2 linked regions of the Homo sapiens genome follow. The protein of the gene in region 2 purifies or fractionates together with the protein of the main gene of each other region. This does not show direct contact. Each region holds a gene or a part of one and is shown on either strand. Other genes may lie near its edges.

Region 1 (3,908 bases), on a different chromosome or scaffold from region 2:
GATGTTTCAGCCTCCTACCCCCATCCCTCTCACTGCTTCCAGGAAGACTTCCCTGGGGCTCCCGACTCCAGCCAGCCCTGCCTCATTGACGTCTGTCAAAACAAGGGGATGGGCCCCACATGGTGGCTCACACTTGTAATCCCAGCACTTTGGGAGGCCGAGGCAGGTGGATCACCTGAGGTCAGAAGTTCGAGACTAGCCTGGCTAACATGGCAAAACTCTGTCTCTATTAAAAATACAAAAATTAGCCAGGCATGGTGGCGTGCACCTGAAATCCCATCTACTCGGGAGGCTGAGGCAGGAGAATCGTGTGAACTTGGGAGGTGGAGGTTGCAGTGAGCCAAGATCACGCCACTACACTCCAGCCTGGGTGACGGAGCAAGACTCGGTTTCAAAAAAAAGCAAGGGGATGAGAATGAGGGGAATGAGGGGTGAAACAGGGGCATGACATCCCCTGAGACTCATGTTCTCAAACTCACTGTGTGGCGGCTGAAACATCAGGGAGGTGACCCCCAGCCCTCACCTTCAGCCATGACCCTGGGCTACATCCTGACCCCGGACTGAACCCTGACACTCAGCCTGAGACCCCCATCTCTGTCCCAGGCTTGTAGAGCGCTGGCCATGCCCAACCTGATGCCCTTCCCCCTGCTTGCGCTGGACTCTGCATGTTCTCAGGAGAAGGAAGTGAGTGAACTCCTGACCCTCCATCCTTCCTGTCTGCTGGTAACTTCCTCCGAACCCACACAGCAACTGAGAACATGGGTCTCAGGGAGACCCAGAGTACGCATGGTGAAGCGCCTGCTCTACCGCTCGTTCCCCATCCCCTTGCTTTGACAGATGTCAGCGAGGCAGGGCTGGCTGGAGTCCACCGGCCACTGAGGAGCCAGGACTGGGTTCCAGTCCTGCCTGCTGACCCACCAGGGGCCCTAGACCAGCTCCTTCCCGACTCTGAGCCCCAGTCTCCCGACTTGTCCTGTGGATTCCCTGCCTTCCCATATTTTCCAGGCTCACAGCAGGGTTTGGAGGTAGACTGAGGGTAAGGGTGAGGTCCAGACCCCCTGTGCCCGGTACGCAGTGTGTTGAATGAGTAGAAGCCTGGAGGCGGTGGGGCTGGTGCTGACATGGAGAAAGGAAGAGAGGAGGCTCCACACTAGGAACAGGAAAAGTCATGGAAGCTGGACCCAGAGGAGTGAGAGGGAGTTAATGAGGCTGGAACATCAAGGAGGCCTCCCTGGAGGAGGTGAAGGAGGTGAGGAGGCTGAGTGAGGCTAGAGTATCAGGGAGGCCTCCCTGGAAGAGAGGGCAGGAGACAGTGAGTGCGGCTGTGGCACAAGGAGGCCTCCCTGGAGGAGGTGAGAGGGGACAGGGAGTGGGGCTGTGGCACAGGGAGGCCTCCCTGGAGGAGGTGAGAGAGGACAGAGAGTGGGGCTGTGGCATAAGGAGGCCTCCCCAGAGGAGGTGAGAGGCTGTGGCATAGGGAGGCCTCCCTGGAGGAGGTGAGAGGGACAGTGAGTGGGGCTGGAGCTTCGGGGAGAGCTTGGAAACCAGACAGCATAGGAAGGAGGAAGCCAAAGCTGGGAACACCCTCCAGGACCCGCCAGGCTCCTCCCAGCAGGTGGCCCACCCCTCCGCCCCTTCCCCTCACTCCGCATGCCTTGTTTTTCCCTCCCGAATGTAAGTTTCATGAGATTAGGACGCTCATCTGCCTTGTCTCCAAAAGATCATCAGTGCCTGGCATGTGATAGGAACTCGATAAATATTTGTTGAATAAATGAGTGGTTGCCATAGTGATCGTTACAGCCCTGTCCCCATTAGACAGATGAGAAAGCAGCCTCAGAGAGGCAACCCCAGCAAGCCTCAGGCCCCAGCACATATAACAGAATGAACTCCAGAGTCAGGAGCTCCTGCTTTTTGGCCCTAGGCAGGGACTACGGGACTCAGAGCCGCCACAGGCAGAAGCCACAGGCTGCCCGGGCCCATAAAATTTGCGTATTTCCTTGAGGTTGCCATTCCAGCAAGAGGCCATCCTCCTTTACCCTTGAACACCTTTCCCTGCTTTTCTTAGATAGGTAGAGGGAGGCCCAGCGGGTGGGGATGGGCCCGGGGTCACCCAGCAAGTCGGGGCAGAAGGTTTCCTGTTCCAGCCTGAGCCCTGTTACCCGGTTTGGCGCCCAGGCTCTGAAGCCAGGCAGCCAGGCTGCACCCTTTCCTGGCTGGGAGCCCGTGAGCAGGTGGCTTCGCCTCTGTGCCTTGGGTTTTCCTCGCCCGCAAGATGGGGTTCTAGCGGGCCTCACCTCACCGCACGTGGTGAGATGCTGAGGAGGGAACGCCCGTAAGGCGCTCAGAACAGTGCCTGCCACTAAGGAGGCCGTAAAAGTGAGTTGTTGTTGTGCGGCTGCTGTTGTGATTGCTCGGGACACGCTGAGGCCCAGATGGATGCGCGGGCGGGCGGAAGGCGGCCGCGAGGGCTGACGTCAGGCTCCCCATCCCTCCCTCCCGCCTGGATCAAATTCAGGTGACTAAGCGCGTCTGCGAGGGAGGCGGCCGGCCGGGGAGGCCCGAGGTTCCTGCCGCGTGTCCGGGAGACAGGGCCTGGCGCCCCGGCCGCGTGTGTGAGGGCGTGTGTCCCCACAGGAGGGAATATGTGTGCGCAGGCTGTGGACCAGGGTGGTGGCGTGTGTGTGTGTGTGTGTGTGTTGTGGGTCCCCACACAGGAGCGCACTGCATGGAGATGAAAACCTCGGTGTGATGTGTGTGTGCGCAGGTGTGTTTATGCGCCTGTGTGCCTGCAGGTCTCCGTGTACCTATGCCCAGGGTAGGGGGGTGGTCCGCGCCCCTGGGGGCCCTGGGAGCCTGATCCCAGAGCTCATATCTGGACTTTTCCCCATAGTCACTGGTCCCACCAGCCTGGCACTGCCTGCTGGGCTGGATTCTGTGCCCCGGGCGGAAACCCAGGCCCATCTGGAGGCTCACACAGGGGGTGTCTCAAGGCCCTTCCCAAGCTCAGGCCTTAGTAGATACTCTGTAGAAACTTAATTCGGTGGATAACTAGGGCCATGTGGGCAAACAGAAAGATGGACAGACAGGCCGGGAACCAGGCCCATGGTACAGCGAAGGATTCCTGTGGGCATGGGCACTGGCTTAGTCCTGCGGCCGTGAACAGCCAGACTCAAGCCCTCCCTCATTGGGAAAAACTACTGCAATCCTGTCCCCCCAGACTGGGGATCTGCTGCCTCGGACAAGTCATCGAGCCTCTTGGAGCCTCTGTTTCCTAACACGTGCATCAAGCAGAAGGCCACTGTCCTGCCAACTCCCAGGGCGATGGAAGGAACAGAATGAGGTGTGGACACAGGAGTAGTTTGTGCCACAGCACTGTGGGGCTGGGATGTGGCTGTGTCTAGAAGCGTCCAAGAGAGCCTTGATGTGCAAGGTCCAACCCCACCTCTGCCCCCAGCTCCAAGATGGCCTGGCACATATCCCCCACCCAGGTTTTTCCTCCCAGGCTGTGCCCCACCCCCCAAGCGTCTGGCCACTCCCAAGGAATGTGGGCCCCCGGCTCCAGACGCCCACTTGGCCTGGCTTCTTCCACAGGACATGCCCCATCCAGCTGCATCCCTCAAAGGAGCCCCAGAGCAGGCAGACCCTGCTGCCATCCACGCGGGTTCAAGTAGCTCCACCTGGGAGCTGGTCAGGCCCTGGTCAGGCCTCATTCTGAGCGCTGGAAGGCCGCTGTGAACCCCAGTGCCAAGCCGAGGCAGGGGACCAGCTACATCCAGGCGAGGGGATGGACAGCCGTGACCAGCAGAGGACCGAACAGAAGGGAAAGCCGCAGAGGTGGCGGCCACCCAGGCCAGACACAGAAGGTGGTCCTCCCATGCCTGGGCCGCCTCACTGGAGCTGTGTTTATG
Region 2 (3,908 bases):
CCGGACCTCAAGTGCCTGGCTGCTCCCCACGAAGGGGGGCTCTGCTGCATCTCCCCTTCCTCAGAGAGGCCTTCACTGAGCTCCCTACCCATCTCTCCCTCACTCACACTGCCCCACTGTCTGAGCCTCATTGTACTTGTCACTGTCTCGGTCTTCTTGTGTATTGCCTGGTTTCCAAGTTCTTCCCTCTGTCTCTCACATCCATAAGAATAGGGACGTGGTCTCTCTTGTGATCGCTGTGTCCCCAGCCCCCAGGTTATTGGCTGCATAAACAATGGTGGGAATTTTAGTGTACTGGCCCTTTGTGGAGTGTTTTCTATAGATTATCTCATTTAATCTCTGCAACCCCTTGCAGTAGCTCCTATCATTACCTCCACTTTACAGATGAGGAAACTGAGGCTTTGGGGGTTTGAGTAATTGGTTAGGAGGCAGCCTCACAGCAAGTGAGCTTATGAAGCCAAAAAGGCTGAGTCTACAACCCAAGCTACTAGCCTCTTAGATATACTATTTCCCATAGGCTACACTTTTCTATTAGGATCCTGGAAACGTCACAGTTGCCTCAGTGTGAATCTTGATTCACACCCTAGACCTTGCTGCTAACAAAAATCTCTGCTGTGCTTGCCTGAGCCCTGTGAAGGTGGAATGGATTTATTTATTTATTTTTATTTATTTATTTATTTTTTGAGACGGAGTTTCGCTCTTGTCGCCCAGGCTAGAGTGCAATGGCACAATCTTGGCTCACTGCAATCTCTGCCTCCTGGATTCAAGCGATTCTCCTGCCTCAGCCTCCGGAGTGGCTGGGATTACAGGTGCCCACCACCACACCCGGCTAATTTTTCTATTTTTGGTAGAGACTGGGTTTCACCATGTGGGCCAGGCTGGTCTCAAACTCCTGACCTCAGGTGATCCACCAGCGTCGGCCTCCCAAAGTGCTGGGATTATAGGCGTGAGCCACCATGCCCAGCCTGAAGTGGATTTATTAAGAGAGAGAAACTAACATTTGAGTGTTTCCCACATAGCTGGCCCTGAGACAGTATTATCAGTTGCTATTGACTTGTCCCACCAGCATCATTAGGCCGATAAAATCATATCCATTTGTGCAGGTGAAGTAACTGGGCTCAGAGGCATGAAGTGACTTACCAAGAACACACAGGTAAGGTCTTAGTAAGCTGAGCCAGGTCTGACGGCCCCAGCACTGGGATGAGCCCTACTGGTCTGTTTCCATGAGAAACTAACTGTGAACCCTCCCAGACCAAAACCCCCAAATCAACCCAAAAACCTTCAAAGAAAGTACAAATGAAGGGAAGCCTGTCCAGAGGACAGATCCCCACCTAAGGGAGGCCCCAGGTCCTGTCCTGGGACTGTAGTGGCTGCCCCAGCTTAAAAAGCCCACTCTGCAGTAGCCACCTCAGCCAGCCTGAGCACTCACCACCTTCTCCCGCGACCGCAGGACGCCCAGCTTGCCAAAACGCACGTGGAAGGGTGAGCACCGGAACGAGCCGTCCACCTGCTTCACCACCAGCACGTCAATGCCGCCGCTCAGTGTGGCTGGGTTCAGGCCCCGGTACAGCTCCTTCACCGTCCCAAACACCGTCTCCGCCAGCTGCCCCACGTAGTTCATGGCTGGTGCTGGCAAAGAAAGGCAGTGGCTTGCACAAAGGTCTGCTCCAGCTCCTCCACAAGAAGCTCCTGCAGCCTGACCACACAGACCCCCAAGTTTACATTTGTGTCACGCCTTGGAGTGCCTTTGCACAGATGGCAGCAGCTGTGCGATGGGAGGTACACCTGTAGATGTGGGTCTAACCCCAGCTTGCCCACTGCCCTGCTAAGGGACCCTTGGGCAGCCGCCTCCTTCCCCAAGTGCCGATGTCCACATCTGTAAAATAGGGCACAAGGTAAAACAATACCCAGTTGCCTCGTGCCTCTAAATGCCATGACTAATGATAATGACCACAGTGTTCCGTGGGTACGGCTCATTTCATCTTCACAACAACCCTGTGGGGCTGGCTGAGCGGGTGTCATTATTCCTGTTTACAGATGAGCCAGCAGAGGCTCAGAGAGGTGGAGTGACCTGCCCAGAGCCTCATAACTATGAAGGAGGGAACCTGAGATCTGAACCCAGGTTTGTGTGGTTCCACTGGGATGGTCCAACTGTGAAAACGGAGGGGGTGGGAAGAGGGGGCAGCCTCATTAGATAGCAGGCCCAGGGCCCTGCTGGATAATGGGTGACTGTGCTAATGAGTACTCTTCTTTTCCCAAGAAGTGGGAACGAAGGAGCCTCCACTTTTCCATCTGAGAAATGGGCTCAGCTGTCTTGCTATCTGCTGGTCCTGTGAGTTGGAAGGTGTCTTGCTGGGCGATTGTAGCTGACTTATGGGGGACCAAGGGTGGGAGCACCCCAGGTACTCAAGGCTCTGTTCAGCCCCATTCCTGGGGTCAGATGCTCAAGGCAGAGCATCCCCTATAGCTGGGGGCTTAAGGCCCCAAACTACAAATTCCTTCCCAGTTTCCCTGGTGGGAAGCCTGTCCATGCACAGCCTGACCCCAGCGGTGTCCAGGCTATAGTTCTCAGACCCCAATTTCAACCCTAACCCCAGCTCCTCAGACCAGGGCTGAGCTGGCTAGGCGCTCAGACCCACAATCAGGCCTTGGGCTGGCCTCAGCCCACTGAAGCTGCTCCCTCCCCCAGCCAGACCGGTCTCTCCAGCTTTCCCACACCAGACAGGCCTGGGTAAGCCCAAAGCAGGAGGCTGAGGCGGCCTCAGAGAAAAAACAGGGCTATGATGAGAGCCTCCTCCAAGCTGGCACAGTGCCTGCCCCAGCAGCTTCAGGTGATCACCCCTGCCCTCCTGGCCAGGCCAGTGGCCTGCTGCCCCTCTGCCTGCCAAGACCCAGACTGTCCTATCTCTACAGAGCACTTTCTTCTCTCAGACCCTGGGTCAGAACCCCTGGAGGACAGCCTGCCATGCAAGACCACTTAGCAAAGAAGCTAAGTGACTTACCCAAGGTTAAGTGACTTTACAGGTGAGGAAACTATTCAAGCTCTTCTAAGCTGACAGGCCATAGAAGGGGTATAGGGAGGGGAGAGAGGGAGTAAAGACTCATATCCAGCTCTCCTGACTCTAGAGCATGGTCTCCTTCCACTCCATGCTTCCAAACCACCCAAGAGTTGGTTGCATGGCCCATGGCCACTTCTGCACAGCCCTGCAATGCCCTGCACTCAAAATGTGGTATGCACCAGCAACAAACATCAGCATCAGCATCACCTGGGAGCTTGTTAGAAACAGAAACTTAGGCCCAACTCAGCCCTACTGAATCAGCATCTGCATATTTTTCTTTTCTTTTCTTTTCTTTTTTTTTTTTGAGACAGGATCTCACTCTGTTACCCAGGCTGGTGTGCAGTGGCACCAAAATGACTCACTGCGGCCTCAACCTCCCAGGCTCTAGTGATCCTCCTGCCTCAGCCTCCTGAGTAGCTGGGACTACAGGCATGTACCACCATAACTGGCTAACTTTTAAATTTCTTTTGTAGAGACAGGGTCTCACTATGTTGCCCACGTTGGTCTCAAACTCCTGGACTCAAGTGATCCTCCCACCTTGGCCTACCAAAGTGCCGGGACTACAGGCGTGAGCCATTGCACCTGGCCTAGCATCTGCATTTTAACAGGATCCCGAGGTGATTCCTGCAGCCTTTCATGTGTTTGAAAGGAACTGCTTTTGTGTTCCCAGTCCACAGTCTACTCTTGGAAGAGCCTAAACGACAAGACCCCCACCTCCACAGCATTTCTCAGATAATGCCACATCCTGCCCATCCTAGGACATCGGATGAAGCAGTGGATTCTTTCAGTCTATGTCAGAGCGTCACAAACATAAGACACAATTCAAATTGCCAAAGTGAAAATGGGATG

The links.
Region 1: the proteins of LPIN3 (region 2) and CAMKK1 purify together in Homo sapiens (affinity purification with mass spectrometry; 2 studies listed by BioGRID and IntAct, with this or other methods). This does not show direct contact.

Annotation. Positions count from the first base shown.
Region 1 is NC_000017.11:3,886,239-3,890,146, forward strand, and holds part of CAMKK1 (calcium/calmodulin-dependent protein kinase kinase 1), read right to left. Parts: intron 1-3,908. UniProt on the Homo sapiens protein: Calcium/calmodulin-dependent protein kinase that belongs to a proposed calcium-triggered signaling cascade involved in a number of cellular processes. Phosphorylates CAMK1, CAMK1D, CAMK1G and CAMK4. Involved in regulating cell apoptosis.
Region 2 is NC_000020.11:41,343,517-41,347,424, reverse strand, and holds part of LPIN3 (phosphatidate phosphatase LPIN3), read right to left. Parts: intron 1,630-3,908; 5' UTR 1,622-1,629; coding exon 1,430-1,621; intron 1-1,429. UniProt on the Homo sapiens protein: Magnesium-dependent phosphatidate phosphatase enzyme which catalyzes the conversion of phosphatidic acid to diacylglycerol during triglyceride, phosphatidylcholine and phosphatidylethanolamine biosynthesis therefore regulates fatty acid metabolism.